Linked DNA regions of Homo sapiens: region 1 is linked to region 2. The links come from fine-mapping of genetic effects on gene expression. A gene starts in region 2. The other region holds a variant in brackets. All regions are shown on one strand. Distances are between the middles of the regions.

Region 1 (9,540 bases), 260 kb before region 2:
ATAATCATCAAGGTGCACCAAAGGGGCAGGGATGACAATTGAGACGAGATGGGGTGTTTAGGGCACTGGGGCCGTAGACAGGGCGAGACTTCAGCAAGCAGCAAGGAGGGGCCGTAGACAGGGCAAGCCTGGCAGGGGCAGTTTGAGGGAGAGGACGTCTCACATTGAAACAATACTTTAAAATAAGAGATTTGTCTTCATGGACTCCATGCCCGTCCATGGCAGAGTGGCAGGTGCAGGACGAGCCTCCCCACTATGAAACCGTCAGCAAGTGAAATACCAGAGGGCACAGGTGCCCAGGACTGCTGTCCCTGGAAAGGAGATACATACAGGGTGGCCTTGGTGGCCCCGGCCTTCTGCCTGAGCACCTTGTACACCACAGCTAGGGCACCCAGCAGAACACAAGGCGTCTCCAAGCTCAGGAGGCAGGGATCAGAGTTGAGGGCAGCTTGCATTTGTGCGGCAAGGCATTAGAGTAAAGGAGCTAACACAGACATCACCACAGAAAGCTACATGGATTCCACTAAGTCCTTGGGTTTGTTCTAAGCTGTGAACGTGGAGAGTGAGAGTCTTTGAGGGTTGGTGGAAAGTGGCGGGTAGAGTCTTTGAGGGTTGGTGGAAAGTGGCAGGTAGGGAGTGGTGACCTTAGTGGTGAGTCTGAGGGTCCCACAGTGCTGGCTGGGAGACAAGCCTCCCCATCAGCCGGTCCAGAGGTGACTTGCATAAGACCCTAGGCACTCAGCGCATGCCCCCAGAAAGGCCACATCTTAGGAGGAGGGTTCCTCTCGCCCTAGAAAAGGGCTGTTCTAGACTGACCCTAACTGAGCTTTTGGAAAGACCAAGTTCATCCTCCAGTAGCTCAGCTGCTTACCAGACAGACTCATTCACTCTCCAAAGGAAGCAGACAAAATTAACTTCTCAATGATGTTATGATCTTTCATAATGTCAACTAGAATCAGAAACTACTACACAAGTAAAGAAACAGGAAAATAGGATCCCTATACAGGAAACAAAAAAGGGTCACAAGAAACTGACCATGATAGCCAAGATAGCACACGTAGAAAAGAGGATTTGAGGCAGCCATTACAGATACACACCAGGACTCAAGGGAAGTATTCCTCTTTTTTTTTTTTTTTTTTTTTTTTGAGACAGAGTCTCATTCTGTCCCCCAGGCTGGAGTGCAGTGGTGAGATCTTGGCTCACTTCAACCTCCACCTCGCAGGTTCAAACAATTTTCCTGCTTCAGCCTCCCAAGTAGCTGGGATTATAGGTGTGCACCACCACACCCAGCTAATTTTTGTATTTTTAATAGAAATGGTGTTTCACCATTGTTGGCCAGGCTGGTCTCAAACTCCTGACCTCAGGTGATCCGCCCGCCTCGGCCTCCCAAAGTGCTGGGATTACAGGCATGAACTACCACACCCAGCCTAGTAGTGGTCTTAATGAATGAACACATGGGAAATTTAGCAGAGACTCTGAATCTTTTTTTTTTTTTTTTTTTGAGATGGAGTCTCGCTCTGTCGCCCAGGCTGGAGTGCAGTGGCGCGATCTCGGCTCACTGCAAGCTCCACCTCCTGGGTTCACTCCATTCTCCTGCCTCAGCCTCCTGAGTAGCTGGGACTACAGGCGCCCACCACCACACCTGGCTAATTTTTTGTATTTTTAGTAGAGACAGGGTTTCACCGTGTTAGCCAGGATGGTCTCGATCTCCTGACCTTGTGATCCACCCGCCTCGGCCTCCCAAAGTGCTGGGATTACAGGCGTGAGCCACCGTGCCCGGCCGAGACTCTGAATCTTTAAAGAAGAGTCAATTGGACATTTTAGAACTGAAAAGTACAGTATCTGTACTGAAAAATCTGTTGCCTGGGCTTAATAACAGGTTGGAGGTGGGTAGAAGATAGCCTCAATGAATTTTAAGAGAAATCTGTAGAAATTATCCAAGCTAAAGAACAAACAGAAAAAAGATTGAAACGAGCAGAGCTTCAGTGACATGTGGGATAGCACCAGGTGGTCTAACATACCTGTGATTGGAGCCCCACAGAGAGAGGACACACAGAATGGGGCATATAGCACCAGGTGGTCTAACATACATGTGATTGGAGCCCCACAGAGAGAGGACACAGAGAATGGGGCATATAGCACTAGGTGGTCTAACATACATGTGATTGGAGCCCCACAGAGAGAGGACACAGAGAATGGGGCAAATAGCACCAGGTGGTCTAACATACATGTGATTGGAGCCCCACAGAGAGAGGACGCAGAGAATGGGGCACGTAGCACCCGGTGGGCTAACATATGTGTGATTGGAGCCCCACAGAGAGAGGACACAGAGAATGAGGCATATAGCACCAGGTGGTCTAACATACTTGTGATTGGAGCCCCACAGAGAGAGGACACAGAAAATGGGGCATAAAAAGTATTTAAAGAAATAATAGCTGAATGATATAAATGTGTAAATCCAAGAAGCTCAGCACACTGTAAGCAGTAAAAGTAAGAGAAAATGTTATCTGGGCACATTGTAGTCAAACTACCGAATACCAAAGACAAAGATAGCACCTGGAAGGAAAAAGACGTTACACTCAAAGAATAAAGATTCAAATATGTCTGGCTTCTTATAACCACTGGAGGCCAGAGGATGATGGACTGGCATCTTTAGAGTTCTAAAGAAAAACGATTGTCAACCCAGAGTTCTATCCAGTGACAATATCCTTCAAAAACAAAAGCAAAATAAAGACATTTTCAGATAACGGAAAACTGAGAGAAGGCTTTGCCAGCAGACACACTATAGAAATGTTAAAGGAATATCTTCAGGCTGAAGGAATTATTGCTTGGCAGAAAGAATTATTGCTAGGCAGAAAGTCATCTATAGAAAGGAGTAAAATCCACTGGACATGGTAAAGGTAGGGAAATATGAAATGTTCTCTATTTCTTTTTTTCTTAATTTAATACAGACACAACTAAGGCAAAAACTGTAATACTGTAATATACACAACATTAGCACAAAGGAGGGAGGGGATCCTTCCTGAATCTGTAACATCACTGGCTCTCTAAATTCTACGTGAAGCGAGAAAATATTAACCCCAGGTCTGTTGTGAGTAGGTGAGATACCTGCTGTTAGCCCTAGGGCAATCACTAAAAGTAGTGCAAAGATATGTAGCTGAGGAGCCCATGGAGTGATTGAAATGGAGTGTTAAACATGTTTGCTTCCAGTAAGAAGGCAGGAACAGAGGAACAGGACGAAAAACCAGGTGAGACTCTGAAAACAAAAAATAACCAATGAGCCATATCAATGATTACATTAAATGTAAGTGACTAAATCTTCCAATTAAAAGACAGAGATTTAGAATCAGGCCAGGCATGGTGGCTCATACCTGTAATGCCAGCACTTTGGGAGGCCAAGGCAGGCAGATCACCTGAGGTCATCAGGAGTTCAAGACCAGCCTGGCCAACATGGTGAAGCCTCATCTTTACTAAAAATACAAAAATTACCCGGGCATAGTTGCACGTGCCTGTAGTCCCAGCCACTCAGGAGGCTGAGGCAGGGAGAGTCACTTGAACCCAGGAGGCAGAGGTTGCAGTGAGCCACTGCACTCCAGCCTGGGCAACAGAGTGAGACTCTGTCGCAAAAAAAAAAATCAATTTAAAAAAATCAGGTATCAAGTATATGCAGTTTTCAAGAGCTATGCTTTAAATATAAAGGTACAAATGAGTTGAAAGAGGAAGGATAAAGATAAAGAAGGATAGACTACATAAATATACTGGAAAGCTAGAGTGGCTGTATTAACTTTAGACAAAGTAAAGTTCAGGACACGGAGTATTATCAGAGGTGTACAGAGACATTTTGTGGTAATAAAAGACTTAATTGATCATAAAGACATAAAGGCACCACATACTGAACCTCACAATATATGAAGCAAAAATTGCAGAACTCCAGGAAGAAATACACAAATTCACAATTCTGTTTGGAGATTTTAACATCAATCACTCTTTCAATAATTGAAAGAACAACTAAACAAACAAAAAAAAGAAGACATAGAAGATCAGAACGGCACTATCGGCCACTTTGACATAATTGATGAATCCCTTTACCCTGCAGTACTTCCGGGTGTTTTTCCTAAGAAGAGTGTTCTTTTCATTCCTGCAGGGATCAGCTGCAGTAGGTTTAACACGGTTGCGGTTCTGAGACTGCGTCTCCCACTCATTTTCCAGTTTGTCATCTGACCTAAGGATAATCCTTATAGCATTTACTTTCCAGAATAGGGTTCGGCGTTGGGTTTAGTTGTCTGGTCTCTTCTGGGACATCCATCTTTTATGACACTGATATTTTAAAGTTATGCATTCCTTTAAATAAATGGTGTTCCTCTTTGGGGTTTCCCAGCTGTTTCCTGTGGTCGTCGTCCCAGGCAGGACGCTGCCTGCGGGGAGGACCCTCCCACACCACCTGCCTTGTCCTCCATGATATGCTGGTCCCCGGTGGGTGAGCCTGTGTTTCTAGGTGGTCAACAGGGAATGGAGATATGTCCAAACCAGTTCCCATGGCCCTGTGAGAGATGCATGGCGGCATTCTGCAGCCATGACCGTGACCACGTGGGGAGGCTTCAAACAAGAAACACTTACTCTTCCACAGTTCTTGAGGCCAGAAGTCCGAAATCAGGGTGTCGGCAGGGCCAGTTCCACCCAAGTCTCTATGGGAGGAGGGACCTTCCCTTCCCTCCGAGTCTCTGCGGGAAGGTCCTTCCTCGTCTCTTCCAGCCCCTGGAGGCTCCGGGCACCCCCGGCTTGTGGACGTATCACTCGGGTCCCTGCCGCTTTGCCTCCTCCCCTTTGGTCTGTCTCAGGGTTCCTGGTACGTCTCTCTGATGAGGACGTCTGTGATCACATAGTCCAGGACGCCCTCACCTCGAGATCCTTAACTTAATTACCTCCACAGAGACCCCTTTTCCAAATAAGACAGGGTGCAGGCATTAAGATGTGGACAGGTCTTTCTGGGGGCCTCCTTTTAGCCCACTGCCCAGGGCTTCTCTCTAATAAAGGTGGGCTCAGACTGCGCACCCTGTTTTATTCCCTGTCTGGTCACTTAATTCTTAAACAATTTTCATTACCTGGTCCTTATGACAATATTGGAAATAACCAAAGTTTTTTTACTTCCCGTCAAATCACAAGTATCTTCCCATCTCGCCGACGTTGTCTTACAGCAGCTTTGGTCAGCATGTACTGCTCCTGACAGAGGCAGAGGCCGCGTGGAGAGTGGGCCGGGTCGCCGCAGACACAGCAGGGTCGAGGCCTGGCGCCGGCAGTCTCAGCGACGCACTGGTCATTGCCCCAGATGCCACGC[G/A]CCCGTCTGGACCTCCGCTGCTCGGCGGCACGTGTGGTGGCCACAGGGTGGTCTGTTACGTGTGTTTGCTCATTGCGCCAAGCCCACCGGCCGGCACGTTGGTTGTTCCTGGTTTTTATTGCTGGAAGTGGCACCTCGGTGGCCAGCTTTGTGGCGCAGGGATATTTTGCAGGGCTGTGACTTACTGTGTGAACTAGCTCCTGAGGTGGGCTGCTGGGTCAGGGTGTGCGTGGTGGACGGGTGCCGCCAGCCTGCACCCAGGGTTCGTGCTCACGGCGGGGACAGCGTGCTGTTGTCCTGTTCCCTACTCAGAACATCCCATTTCCGAAAAACCACTGAGAGTTTTTAAGTGAAAATAATGTTATTTAAATACGCATTTCTCTGCCAAGTTATTTTTCTTGGTTTTGCTCTTGTTGTTTCTCTGGGGATTTGTGTTTTGCCTTTGCCGTTCCCCTTTGGTGTGAATGTTCTTTGTTTATCCATCTGTAAGAGGCCCTGCTGTCCGGGAAGGTAAATGCACGTGGAAGGTGTAACCCCTTGGCCGCATCCCATTCTGTATGCACGGACTTTGCTTTCTGCACAGGTTTCCTCTTGTGTCCAGTCTGCCCGTCTTTCCCCATTTTCATTGCTGCCTTAGGTGCTTTGTCGAAACGGCCTCCAGCACTTTTTCCTTACACTTTTAAGGGCTATTTACATATTTACATCCTGTTTTAAATTGCTTACCTGTAGTGAATGGACTATGTACTCTGAGGTCGGTTTTCACACAGTAATGGGAGCACTGTCCATCCATCCCTTCGTCTGTCCATCCATCCATCTGTCCGTGGGAGCCACACATGCACTTGGTGCTCCCTGCGCTGCCTGGCTTCAACAGCCCGGGTCCTCCCAACAGCCCTGGGACCTGGACTTCCTCTTGGCAGCTCCAGTAAGAGGCAACAGGCGACAGATGTTTGCAAAGACACCTCTTGTTATTACCATTTTATTTTCTCTGTTGTATGAACTTAAACATTAGGGTGGCAGCAGTCATGTCTTCAGTGAACCAGTTGCCTCACTGGCACTGCCGAACTGGTATGTGTGGTCCAGCCCCACCCCTGCCATCCCCACGAGCTGCCATCCAGCCCCATCCCTGCTGTCCCCGCGAGCCGCCGTCCAGCCCCATCCCTGCCTTCCCTGTGAGCCGCCGTCCAGCCCCGTCCCTGCTGTCCCCGCGAGCCACCATCCAGCCCTGTCCCTGCAAGCCACTGTCCAGCCCCATCCCTGCCGTCCCCACAAGCCACTGTTCAGTCTAGCGCTTCCCTGTGCCAGGCAGGCCATGGCCCTGCACAGCGGGACCCAGCGTCCCGGCCTTGCCAGTGCTAGCTGGCACCCCGTTCCGTGATTGAGTGGGAGGCACAGTGGTCTGGTGGGTGCTCCACCCCCTCTCCTGCGAGGCGGGTAGACATGGAAGCCCCCCAGCTGCTCTCACCCAAAGGCGCCCCTCTTTTTTTGTGGTATTTTTTTTTTGGTAACTTCTGTAAATAAATCCACGTTTGGCCTTCACCACATGACAAAGACTTCAGTCTTGATGGTGGGATCAGCTGCAGACACAAGTCAGGAACCTGGGCGTGGTTCAGGATCAGCTGCAGACACAAGTCAGGAACCTGGGCGTGGTTCAGGAGGACATGGTTCATGATTAAGTCCCTACTACACACTCTAGATAGGCCTCCAGCAAAGTTCTTTGCACTAGGCCAGAAACTGGAAGATTTCTTACAAATTTACAACTAGCCTGCCCCAAAATGGGGAGCATAAAATTTAACAAATATTTATACATGAAGTCTTTTTACAGATGATAAGTAGCTGGAGCCAAATGTGTTTTTAAATCAAAAGCTTCCTATAGAAATGGGAGCCCCCATCCAGTGCAAGGGGCAGGGCCTGTGCTGGGGCCGTGTGCAGCATCTGCAGGGCATCGGGGGTCTTGCTGCCTCCCTAGCACAGAGACCCCAACGACCTGTCAGTCAACAGAGACCCCAGCAGCCTGTCGGTCAACAGAGACCCCAGCAGCCTGTCAGTCAACAGAGACCCCAGCGGCCTGTCAGTCAGGTGTGGAGGCTCACAGGGGAGCAGGTTCCTGACCTCACTAGGCAGTCAGAGGGAGCGTGTTAACCCCGACCATCCAAAAGCAAAATCTACGTCCCACTGTCCAGGAAAGGACTTGAGTTTCTTTAAAGAACAAAACAGCAGAACAAACCCAGAAGAACTCCACGGAGTCGGTATCTTCTAACGTGAGTTCCAACTGTTGAAAATGTAATAAAAGCTATGAAAGTAATAAGACGTTTTAGTTTTTCGTGTCATTACCTTAGCTAAAACCTGCTATTTAAAGATTCTTTTATCAGGCAGCCTTGAAATGCAAAATTCAAAGCAGGTGAAGTGACAGAAGAATGCATTTTCGAACACCCTCAGCCGATGTGAAGGCAGCTGCGTCTGGACTCACCCCTTCTCTGCACAACGCTTGTATTTTGGTGGCCCTGAGTCACTGAAACTCTTCCAGGCCTTGGTCCCTTCTGATAAAAGCGTGAGGCTGCGTCTTTTTAGCTAGGATCTCCCGCCCTGTCGCCCAGGCTGGAGTGCAATAGTAGCGCGATCTTGGCTCACTGCAGCCTGGAACTCCTGGGCTTAAGCCATCTTCCAGCCTCGGCCCCAAGGTCACTGGGACTACAGGTGTGCGCCACCACACCTGGCTAATAAAAGAGCAAAGCTTTTATTCTCTATGGATTTGAAAAATCAGCTCCTTTTCCTTTCTCCGTTCAACTAAGGTTATATATTGGGAACATTTTGGGGGTAAATTTATTTCTAGCATTAGCCAATGTGTACAGCGGTTGCTTGGAAGATTTTGGTCACGGAAAGGGGGGCAGGGAGTGTATCCTGCAGCCCACAGAGTGCCCTCTCTCCCTCCCAGCCTCCTTCCTCAGCCCACGGGGTGCCCTCTCTCCCTCCCAGCCAGCTTCCTCAGCCCACGGGGTACCCCCTCTCTCCCAGCCTCCTTCCTGAGCCCACAGGGTGCCTCCTCTCTCTCCCAGCCACCTTCCTCAGCCCACGGGGTGCCCTCCCTCCCTCCCAGCCTCCTTCCTCAGCCCACGGGGTGCCCTCTCTCCCTCCCAGCCTGCTTCCTCAGCCCACGGGGTACCCCCTCTCTCCTAGCCTCCTTCCTCAGCCCACACGGTGCCCCCTCTCTCTCCCAGCCACCTTCCTCAGCCCACGGGGTGCCCTCTCTCCCTCCCAGCCTCCTTCCTCAGCCCACGGGGTGCCCTCTCTCCCTCCCAGCCTCCTTCCTCAGCCCACGGGGTACCCCCTCTCTCCCAGCCTCCTTCCTCAGCCCACACGGTGCCCCCTCTGTCTCCCAGCCACCTTCCTCAGCCCACGGGGTGCCCTCTCTCCCTCCCAGCCTCCTTCCTCAGCCAACGGGGTGCCCTCTCTCCCTCCCAGCCTTCTTCCTCTGGAGTGAAAAGCAAATCTAGACTTCGTACTCTTTTACCTATAAATAGTGTGGACCTCTACCGGGTAAGGGATGATTTAAAAAGATATCAGAGCCACTGGGGCAGCCACACACCTGATGCGGTTGAAGAATGAGCCCTCCAGTACTCTGTCCCCGCCCACCTCCCCCACGGCTCAGATGTCGTTTGTCATGGCCTTTGCTGTGCTTTTATCGTAATGTCAAGGTGGAAAATCACAGACATATTCAAAGGTCGGACGATGTAGGGAGCCCTGGGATGGGCAGTGGGCCCTGAGGGCCGTCCCACACCCTGTAGCTTTTCATTCCTGTGGATTTCATTAGGCAACGTTGCTCCTTAATGTCTTTAGTGAGATAGAATTCACATACCATAAAACTGCATTTAAAGCAAGCTTGTCCACACGCGGCTCAGGATGGCTTTGAATGAGACCCAACACAAATTCATAAACTTTCTTAAAACATTATGAGTTTTTTTTTTTTTAGCTCATCAGCTGTCACTAGTGTTAGTATATTTTATGTGTGGCCCAAGACAATTTTTCTTCTTCCATTGTGGCCCACGGAAGCCACAAGATTGGACAACCGACAACCCTGACATAAAGTGTACAAGTCAGCGTACATATTCATGGACTCTGAAGCCATCAGCACCACGTTGAAAACATTCTGGCTGGGGCAGTTCACACCTGTCATCCCAGCACTTAGGGAGGTGGAGGCAGGAGGATCG
Region 2 (9,152 bases):
AAGGACATCGACGAGCAGACCCAGGTGTGTGGTGGGCGGGGCCTCCCCCCTGCAGCGCCGCCCCTGGCACCCAGATCCTGACTGCCGGGCGCTCCCTCCCCCAGGAGCACTGGTACACTTCCTACATCGACCTGCTGCAGCGCTTCCGCCTCTGGAACGTGTCCAACGAGGTGGTCAAGCTGAGCACCAGCCGCGCCGTCAGCTGCCTCAACCAGGCCTCCACCACCCTGCACGTCAACTGCAGCCACTGCAAGCGGCCCATGAGCAGCCGGGGCTGGGTCTGCGACAGGTGGGGCAGTGGGGTCGGGAGGTGGGGCAGGGGCCTGCAGGCAGCGCAGCAGCCCCCGCTGAGGCACCCTCCCTCCCGCCCGCCCCCAGGTGCCACCGCTGCGCCAGCATGTGTGCCGTCTGCCACCACGTAGTCAAGGGTCTCTTCGTGTGGTGCCAGGGCTGCAGCCACGGCGGCCACCTGCAGCACATCATGAAGTGGCTGGAAGGCAGCTCCCACTGTCCCGCAGGCTGCGGCCACCTCTGCGAGTACTCCTGACGGGGCATCTGCTGGGCTTGCCCGGGCGGCCGCGTGCAGAACCCCGCCTGGTCTTGTGCCCGAGACGGGCGGAGGCTGGAACTTGAGACCTCAATAAAGGAAGTAGAGCCGCTGTCGGCACTGCGTGTCACCCCATAGCGCGGCGGGCTCGCCGTAGGCCCGCGGGGCAGCTGGCGGGCGGGGGCTTTCGGCGGGGTTGTCGCCATGGTAACCGGCGGCGCCCATAGTCGCTCTCGGGGCGGCCTTCCCAGTGCCTCCCGTAGAGGCCTCTTCCGGGGCGGGCCAAAGGAGGTCACTTCCGGGGTCCGTCCCGGTTCCCGGCCGTTGCCACGACGACGAAGCTGCCGGCCAATGGCTGGCGGATGGGCCCAAGGTTCCCGGCGTGCAGCGCGGCTGCCTGAGGGCGGCAGGCTCATGGCGCCGGCGTCGCGGTTGCTCGCGCTCTGGGCGCTGGCGGCTGTGGCTCTACCCGGCTCCGGGGCGGAGGGCGACGGCGGGTGGTGAGCGGCCCGGGAGGGGCCGGGCGGTGGGGTCACGTGCGGCGGGCGGGGCGCGGGCTGACCCAGCTGTGCCCGCAGGCGCCCGGGCGGGCCGGGGGCCGTGGCGGAGGAGGAGCGCTGCACGGTGGAGCGTCGGGCCGACCTCACCTACGCGGAGTTCGTGCAGCAGTACGTGCGCCCCTGATCGCGGAGGTCGCGTCCTGTTCACCGGCCCGTCTGCCCCGACCGCCCAAGGCCGCCTTCCCCTGACCTCGCGCGCACGCGTGGGGCTGGGGCGGCGAGGCTGGCGGTCCGGCCTGGCCGCGACTCTGCCCTTCTTTCCAGGTACGCCTTCGTCAGGCCCGTCATCCTGCAGGGACTCACGGACAACTCGGTGAGCGCGTGCCCGTCCGTCCCCGGCCACTCTCGCCCGTGCTGGGCCCGGCCACTAAGTCCCCTCCCCGCCCCCGCAGAGGTTCCGGGCCCTGTGCTCCCGCGACAGGTTGCTGGCTTCGTTTGGGGACAGAGTGGTCCGGCTGAGCACCGCCAACACCTACTCCTACCACAAAGGTACGCGGCCTCACCCCTGGGGCCCGCCCATTTGCCAACACCGGGGCGGCTGGACCAGACGGTCCTGACCCGTCTCTTTCCTGCAGTGGACTTGCCCTTCCAGGAGTATGTGGAGCAGCTGCTGCACCCCCAGGACCCCACCTCCCTGGGCAATGGTGAGGCAGCCCTAGGCGGCGGTAGGGGGTGGGGACGCTTGGAGTCTCCAGGTGCCAGGATCCCTGTCCCCGCCGTCTCTGTTGGCAGACACCCTGTACTTCTTCGGGGACAACAACTTCACCGAGTGGGCCTCTCTCTTTCGGCACTACTCCCCACCCCCATTTGGCCTGCTGGGAACCGCTCCAGCTTACAGCTTTGGAATCGCAGGTGGGTGCTTCTTGGGACTGGGAAGGACTGAGGCTTCTGTCGGTGAGTACAAAATGGGTTGGTCACCAGGTGCTCATAACCCCACAGGAGCTGGCTCGGGGGTGCCCTTCCACTGGCATGGACCCGGGTACTCAGAAGTGATCTACGGTCGTAAGGTCAGCACGGGGTGGGGGTTGAGGCTTGGGACTCGCTGACCAAAACGGGCAAGGGTGACACTGCTGCTCATGCCCCCAGCGCTGGTTCCTTTACCCACCTGAGAAGACGCCAGAGTTCCACCCCAACAAGACCACGCTGGCCTGGCTCCGGGACACATACCCAGCCCTGCCACCGTCTGCACGGCCCCTGGAGTGTACCATCCGGGCTGGTGAGGTCAGTGGCTGGCAGGAGAGGGCCAGGCCAGGCTAGAGGCCCGCAGCTAATCTCTGCTGCACCCCCTTCCTCCACCAGGTGCTGTACTTCCCCGACCGCTGGTGGCATGCTACGCTCAACCTTGACACCAGCGTCTTCATCTCCACCTTCCTCGGCTAGCCAAAACAGCTGGCAGGACTGCCGGTCACACACCAGCACGTCCCACCTCGTGCTCACGGATTTTATTACACAGATAGTGGCGGCAATGGCCTCAGCCCAGCCCACCCTCACCTGCTTTTCCAGCCCACAAAGGGGGACGATCACGGCCCAGCAAAAGCGATGCTGAGAGGGGAAACAGTCCAGAGTCCAACAGCAGAACTTGGGGGAAGCGGTCGGGGTGGCCAGGAACATAAACTATGTATAGGGGCCGGGGGCTTCTGCCCAGGGCTCCCCTGGACCAGGACGCCAGGTAGGGCAGGGAACCTCAGTAGTCCTCCACCCAGCCATTCTCAGAGATGAATGCGTCAATAACCTCCTTCATAGCCAAGTTGGGGATGAGCTGTTCCTGGGTCAGGGGGCTCCGGGTCACGGGGTCAAAATGACCCACACGCTGCAGTGACAAGAAGGGCAGAGGGCAGTCATGGGGCCCAGGACCATGCCACTGGCCCTGCTCCCCCAGCCGCAGGCCTCACCTGCAGGTGCTCCTCGATGTCCTTGCGGTCGTAGGTGATGCCACTGGGCGTGATGCACGGCTCCCGCATCAGCTCAAAGCTGATCTTGCCACACAGGTAGTCGGGGATGTCTCGCTTCTGTGGCACAGGGGCACACGGTCAGAGGCTGAAAAGGGGCACTGCACGAGCACCTGCCAGCCATCGGCAGCAAGCGACACACACTCACCTTCCTCTTCTCATCCACCTGAGAAAAAAGCTCGTCCATGTCCGCCATGTACTTGTCCTGTGAAGAGTTGAGTGCTGTGCTTGGGGGAGACACCCCACCTCCCTCCTCCATGGGGCACAGACCCAACACAAGGCGGGGATGCTCCCACGCCACGTGCACACACACAGACCCACATGTGGGTGGGGGGCACCCTCACGTGCTTGGCCTCAATGCAGGCCTGCTGGGCCCGGACGTGGCTGTCGTCCTCATCACCCTCGTGGTTTCGCTGGCACTCTTCCAGCTCCCTGGGGGTTGACCAGGAGCCGGTCAGAGATGGACCTGGCCAGATGTCTGACCACACCCCAATCTCAGAGCTAACATCCACACTTCCCCACATTTCCTGCTTGCCAGTAAAGCCTTCGATAAACGCTTGTGTCGGGAGTCGGTGATTCAGAATTATCCCAAGACAGGGCGGCCTGGGGTGAGGGTCCCACCTCTCACGCTCCGCGGCAATGAGCCTGGAGAGGTAGGAGTGCAGCTCGCTCTCCTGGTGGATGCGCCGCTCCTCAATGCTGTTCCAGCGCTTCTTCTTCGCGATTCGAAGAGCGCTGGGGATGTCGTCCCCGAAGTTCAGCCGCTGCTCCTTGGCCAGGCTGTAAGCTGGGGAACGGGGGCTTCACGTCACTCTCTGGCCAGTCCACCCGCCTGGCCCCAGAGGCCCCACAACCGGGCAGCTTGTCAGCCAACCTCGCTGCAGATTGGCGATGGCCTCATCATAGCTCTCCATCTCCAGCTGGCACTGCCCCAGGAAGAAGTGCGCCTTCACAGACTGCCCGTCCAGCTCCAGGGCGCGCCGGCAGTCGGCCAGGGCCTGCTCGTGCTGCTGCATCTTCAGGTAGCACAAGGCCCGGTTGGTGTAATACACGGCCACCAGCGGGTTCCGGGTCTAGGGACCAAGGCCGGGCCAGCCGCATGAGGGCGTAGGCTCAGCGTGCCCACTCTGACCCACGGCCCGTCCCAGCTTCTGCGCTCTGGCTAGAATCAAGAAACTAGGTTTCTCAGTTGTCAAAGCCCCTGGGTCCAAGGATCTGTGCACAGTGGAGTACTGGCTGAGCCTATCCGCTTGATTCCACTTGGTTTTGTAAAGTTTTCCAAATCTTTGGAGAGTCCGGGCTTAGGACCTGGGGTCCTCAAGGGTCGAGGGCCCCTGCCCTCCCCCCACCCGGCCGGCCTCCATCCAGCATCGCACCCTCGTTCTCCGGCACCCGGCGCTGGGCTCGAGAACCACGGCTGGGCTTTGGGAGCCGAGGACACGCCCCGAAGAGGAGCCAGACCCTCGGTGGGGCCGGCCGGGCCCGGGCCCGGCCCTCCCCGGTGCCACCGCCGCCGCCCTCCCCGCGCGGGCGCACTCACGATCGCGCGGCCGTAGCAGGCCGCCGCCTCCGGGTACTTTCGGCCCACGAACAGACGATTGCCCTGCTCCTTGAGCTCCTGCGCGCTCGGGCTCTTCTCGGGGCTTCCGCCGCCAGCGCCCAGCCGTGCGCCGCCCTCCTTCTCCTCCTTGCCCTTCATGGCGCCGCGCGGCACGGCCTGGGCTCCGCTCCCAAGCTCCGCGCCTCGCGGCCCAGCGCCCGCAGCCGGAGCCCCGCAGCCCGAGCCCGCGATCCGCTCGGGCCCGGCCCAGCTCCGCCGCCGGAACTTCCGGCCGGGGGCGGGACCAGCGGGGACGCACGCGTGGGGGCGAGTGGGGCCGCGCGTGCGCCCAACCAGCCTGGACGGGGACACTGGGCCCGCGACGTCGGGGGCTGGGAGGAACGCTCCAGTTCCCTGTCCCCGCGCTCTTAAGGGTGGGCGTTCGCGTAGGCCCTGGCCTGCCCTGCTGAGGTCTCTTCGGAACCCGCCTCGGCGGCGGCCGCCACACACATTCGACTTTCCCAGTGAGATGCCTCACTTGCTTCGCTGAGGGCGCGCTCCCGCAACAGCCTGTCCCGACCACCTGGGGTTCCGCCCCTGTCCCAACGCGCAGAGACCCCTCCCCCGGCAGCCGGCCCCATCCAGAGGCCCCGCCCCCAGCAGCCGGCCCCATCCGCAGAGGCCCCGCCCCCAGCAGCCGCCCAATCCAGAGGCCCCGCCCCCAGCCGCCGGCCCCATCAGCAGAGGCCCCGCCCCCAGCCCCATCCGCAGAGGCCCCGCCCCCAGCAACCGCCCAATCCAGAGGCCCCGCCCCCAGCACCCGGCCCCATCAGCAGAGGCCCCGCCCCCAGCCGCCGCCTCCCGCCCCTGCGCGTGAACGTAGCGGCTTCCCACGCGCTGTGGGGTGTGAGGACCCCAGTCGCTGGGCTGCCATTCTGGAGCGCCACGAGAGGTGCTACGGGCGAGCGCGAGCCCCCGAGGGCGGCTGGAAGCCCCGGACTGTTGGTAGAGTGGAAGGGGATAGAGATCGGTGGGGCGAGCGTCCTCCGTGGCCAGTCCTCCCCTCACCGCCCTTCCTCAGGTATCGGGAAGAGTTGCCAGCGGCCATCAGGGGCAGAGCAGAGAAGCATGTGACAGGGAGCTGGAGCGGCTGCTGGCCTGGCAGCTTGACTGTGAAGGGCGGCCCGCCCCGAGGGCAGGGCCTCCGTAGCGCGGGTCTTCATTGGGGCGTGGCATCGGCGGGGCGGGTGTCTCCAGTGGGGGCGGGGCCTCCCTGGTGGGTCCAGCACCCCAGGCACCCTGACCTGGCCTCCCACAGAGGGGCGCTTCCGGCCACGTCTGCAGCAGCTGGTGGCCACCAATCCCCCTGAGCTGGTTGTGCACTGTTCGACCGCCACCTTCTGCCTCCTGCCAGATGTGGGGGCTGCAGTCACCGAGCTGTGTGCCCTCTGCGGTGTGGGCCCACCACAGCCTCGGGTGAGTTGGGTGGGCACGACTTGGGTACATAGGCGTTCTTGTCTGTGAAGCGGGCAGTCTGGGCCCTTGCGTGTCGCTAGGAGCAGGAACCATAGGGCCCTGGGCTGCTGGGAGCAGGGTCTCCCAGAGCTTGTCCTGATGGGGTGTGTCTGGCTGCTTCTCCTCGCTGTTCACAGCAGTCCTGGCAGCTGGAGCTCCAGAGATGGAGGCCTTCATGTCAGATGAGGCGGTGGCCACAGTGCCCGGCTGGCCGGCCCCACAGTACACCCTCAGGTACTACCTGCTGTACCTGGGCCAGGTTCAAGAGCGGGCCACAGCTCTGAGCCAAGGGGAATGAACTGTGTGTGGGCAGGTTGGGGTGGCCCGTGCCCCTGGGCCTGAGTCCGTGTGCCCCTCCCTAGCCAGTGCCTCAGGACAGTGGACTCCCTACCTAGTGGAGACAGCACTGTGGACCTGGGCTGTGGGGCAGAGGCTGTGCCCAGACCTGCTGCCCAACCTTGGCCCCAGCCTGGCCACCCACGAGGATGCTAGGCCAGCCAAGAAGCATGGAACCCAGGCCGAGTAAACTTGGCCATGGCCCAGGCCTGCTCACCTGCCACAGAACCTCAGGCCTCCGGGTCTCACTGGACGGCAGGGAGGCTGAAGAGGAGGCTGGCCACTACGGGAGCTCAATAAACACTTCCCAAACTCACGCCTGATCACACACCCGGCCTGACCACACACCTGGCCTGACCACACGCCCGGCCCCCAGCCATCCCGCGTGCCCCCAGCTCCCACAGACACAGCACCTGTGGCCCAGGAACAACTCCCACGCCTGACCCCAGGTGCAGAGATGCACAAGGAGGGAAGTCCAGGCCCCCGTGGTGGGGAGGGCCGTCGCGGTCTGTGCAGCAGGTGTGGGGGCCCTGACGAGTCTCCAGAGCCCGGGACAGCCCCCTGGTGCTGTGTAAAATATTTATTAATTATCCAAAAAGGCTCAGACCGCAAGTCCTGGGAGTGGGGGGTGGGTGGCTGGGACAGGGCCTCCTTTGAGGCCACCCACACCCAAGGGGCACAGCAGCCCTGAGACGTCCGTTCACAAAGGGCAGACGTGAAGGCCCCTGGTGGGCGGCCACCACATGCCCGAGCCCTGGCCTGTGCAGCCTCAGGTAGCCGGTCAGGGCGGTGGGGGGATGTGGGCGCCCAGCAGGTCGTAGGCGAAGACGTTCCAGAAGACGGCGAAGAGCAGGAAGGTGCCGTAGGCCAGCAGCACCACCCACCAGCCGCACTGGTCCCGCAGGCGCTCCTCGTAGCTCCGCAGGATGGTCAGGCCCATGCTCACCCCCACCACCGCGCCTGCCAGGTGCGCCATGAAGCTGGGCTGTGGGCCCGAGGCGGGCAGCGGCGGGGAGAAGCGCAGCCACACGGCCCGGCCCACCTCGGAGCTCACTGCAGAGGGACGCGGCAGGTGGGAGGTGCCCTGGCTGCAGGCTGAGAGGCCCCCCGGCCCTCCCCCCGGCCCCTACTCACTGCACACCAAGGCCAGCACCATCCTCAGCAACTTGTAGGGACATCTCATCCCAGCCCAGTTCTATGGGTGTGTGCAGACGAGAAGTGGTGAGGCTCACCTGGGGCCCCTCCCCACGCCCCCCACCGGGCAGGCCCGTTACCATGACAACGTTGGCCAGGTGTGCCGAGCACAGGGCGTAGACCCCGCCGGAGCCTCCCACCACCGGGGCCCGCATGTCGGTGATGGAGACGGTTAGGGAGCCTGTGTGAGCAAGCGGCGGGTGAGGGTGCAGCCGGCCAGGGCAGGGGGCGGGGGTGCGCGCCTGCCTCACCTGCCAGCACGCCTGCCAGGTAGAGCAGGCTGATGCGGAGCAGGCCGTGCACCATCTCCAGGGGCACCCCGATCATCAGCTGCAGGAGGGCGTTGAACCCCAGCTGCTCCAGCCTGGCCACAGGGAAGCAAACGGGTACGAAGGGTGGGGTCAGCCATCCGGCCCCACCCCCAGCCGTCACCTCAAGTTGCCGCACCTGCCTTGCGGCTAAGCCTTTCTGATGTAATGGCAGGTTGGGGCGGGGCTCACCGGGCAGCAGTGCTACTCACCCAACGTGCATGAACATGTAGGTGAGGAAGCGCCAGGCGCGGGCACGGTGCCCGGGGTGGTACACAAGGGGGCTCTTCATGTACTCGGGGTGGTAGGTCTGCAGCACCCACTTGTTGAGGCGGGCCCCGTAACACAGGAACACGATGATCTGGGGACACGAGTGTTAGGCTGGTCATGGCCAGGAGCGCGGGAGGCTCCCGGGGCAGCGGCCGGGGGGCCCACCTGGGCAAGAGTGACCGAGGCCATGAACACGGGGGGTGGGCAGCTGCGGTGACGGTAGAAGTACCAGCGGCGGTCCACCTCACAAGGCAGGATCTCGTAGGCCACGTAACGCACAAACCGCTTGTAGACACCTAGGCCTGGCTCATCCAGCGGCCCGTCCCGGGGCAGTGCCCGCTGTCCGTTAGCAATGGCCCGCTTGAAACTGCTGGAGCGCTTGCTGCTGATCTGGGGGCAGGGGCCTGAGTGTGGGCCACGGACCTCCCCATGGCACCCCTGCCTGTGAGGCTCACCCAGCTCCCCGCATCCACAAGCCCCCCACCCACCGCCGTGAGGAGCTGCCTGCCCGCCTCCTCTGGCCAGGACACCGTGCCCCTGCCGCCTGCCCACCGTGGCACTGACCAGGTCCACCAGCTCCTGGTAGCAGACCTGGCCCTGCTCGTTGCTCTGAGCCAGGGCCACCAGCATGTCCAGCTTGGCCGGGTCCAGGGGCAGCTCATGGCTGTGCACCAGGCCAGTGAAGGTGTCCGCACCGATGAAGCCTGTGTTCTCGGGGTCCAGCTGCTGCAGTGAGGAGCCGCCAGCCAAGGCCTGAGTGCGGGCCCGACCCCTGGACCAAAGGGCTGGGCCAGGCTGGCTGGGAGCATCAGGCTCAGGCTCCCAGCACTTTTGGGACAGGGGCCCCGTGCCTGTCTGTTCCCTGGGACCCTGCTTGATCCCAGGAGCTGGCAGGGCACTGGTGCCTGGGTCCCAGTCCTCCAGCTCCTCAGT

Alleles and levels. Alleles are on the strand shown, and positions count from the first base shown. SD is a standard deviation of normalised expression in the study named.
For the expression in monocytes after LPS of the gene that starts at base 4,871 in region 2, G is the high allele of the variant in region 1 and A is the other (large effect, 1.4 SD a copy in Quach 2016).

What was found.
Region 1: its variant is fine-mapped to the expression of STUB1 in monocytes after LPS (Quach 2016, PIP 0.95).

Annotation. Positions count from the first base shown.
Region 1 is chr16:935,332-944,871 of GRCh38, reverse strand. All of the region lies in intron 2 of LMF1 (lipase maturation factor 1), which reads left to right. Among named protein-coding and RNA genes, the nearest start is that of LMF1-AS1, 19 kb to the right of the region's middle. The variant G/A (reference allele first, on the strand shown) is at 5,336.
Region 2 is chr16:676,129-685,280 of GRCh38, reverse strand. It overlaps STUB1 (STIP1 homology and U-box containing protein 1), which reads right to left and starts at 4,871. Exons shown (of 7, transcript NM_005861.4): 1 at 4,597-4,871; 2 at 3,931-4,129; 3 at 3,678-3,843; 4 at 3,401-3,488; 5 at 3,205-3,261; 6 at 3,000-3,116; 7 at 2,480-2,917. The coding sequence starts at 4,755. The coding sequence ends at 2,792. It overlaps RHBDL1 (rhomboid like 1), which reads right to left. Exons shown (of 8, transcript NM_001278720.2): 2 at 8,784-8,945; 3 at 8,385-8,609; 4 at 8,162-8,310; 5 at 7,893-8,005; 6 at 7,722-7,822; 7 at 7,582-7,642; 8 at 7,013-7,500. The coding sequence ends at 7,229. It overlaps JMJD8 (jumonji domain containing 8), which reads left to right and starts at 947. Exons shown (of 9, transcript NM_001005920.4): 1 at 947-1,047; 2 at 1,126-1,215; 3 at 1,372-1,420; 4 at 1,500-1,596; 5 at 1,683-1,751; 6 at 1,840-1,959; 7 at 2,047-2,114; 8 at 2,194-2,328; 9 at 2,407-3,611. The coding sequence starts at 962. The coding sequence ends at 2,487. WDR24 (WD repeat domain 24) reads left to right here. Exons shown (of 9, transcript NM_032259.4): 7 at 1-24; 8 at 105-289; 9 at 379-659. The coding sequence ends at 547. It also overlaps the pseudogene STUB1-DT. RefSeq lists enhancers at 518-567, 2,917-3,504, 3,505-4,092, 4,063-4,112 and silencers at 968-1,277, 4,793-5,002, 5,283-5,392.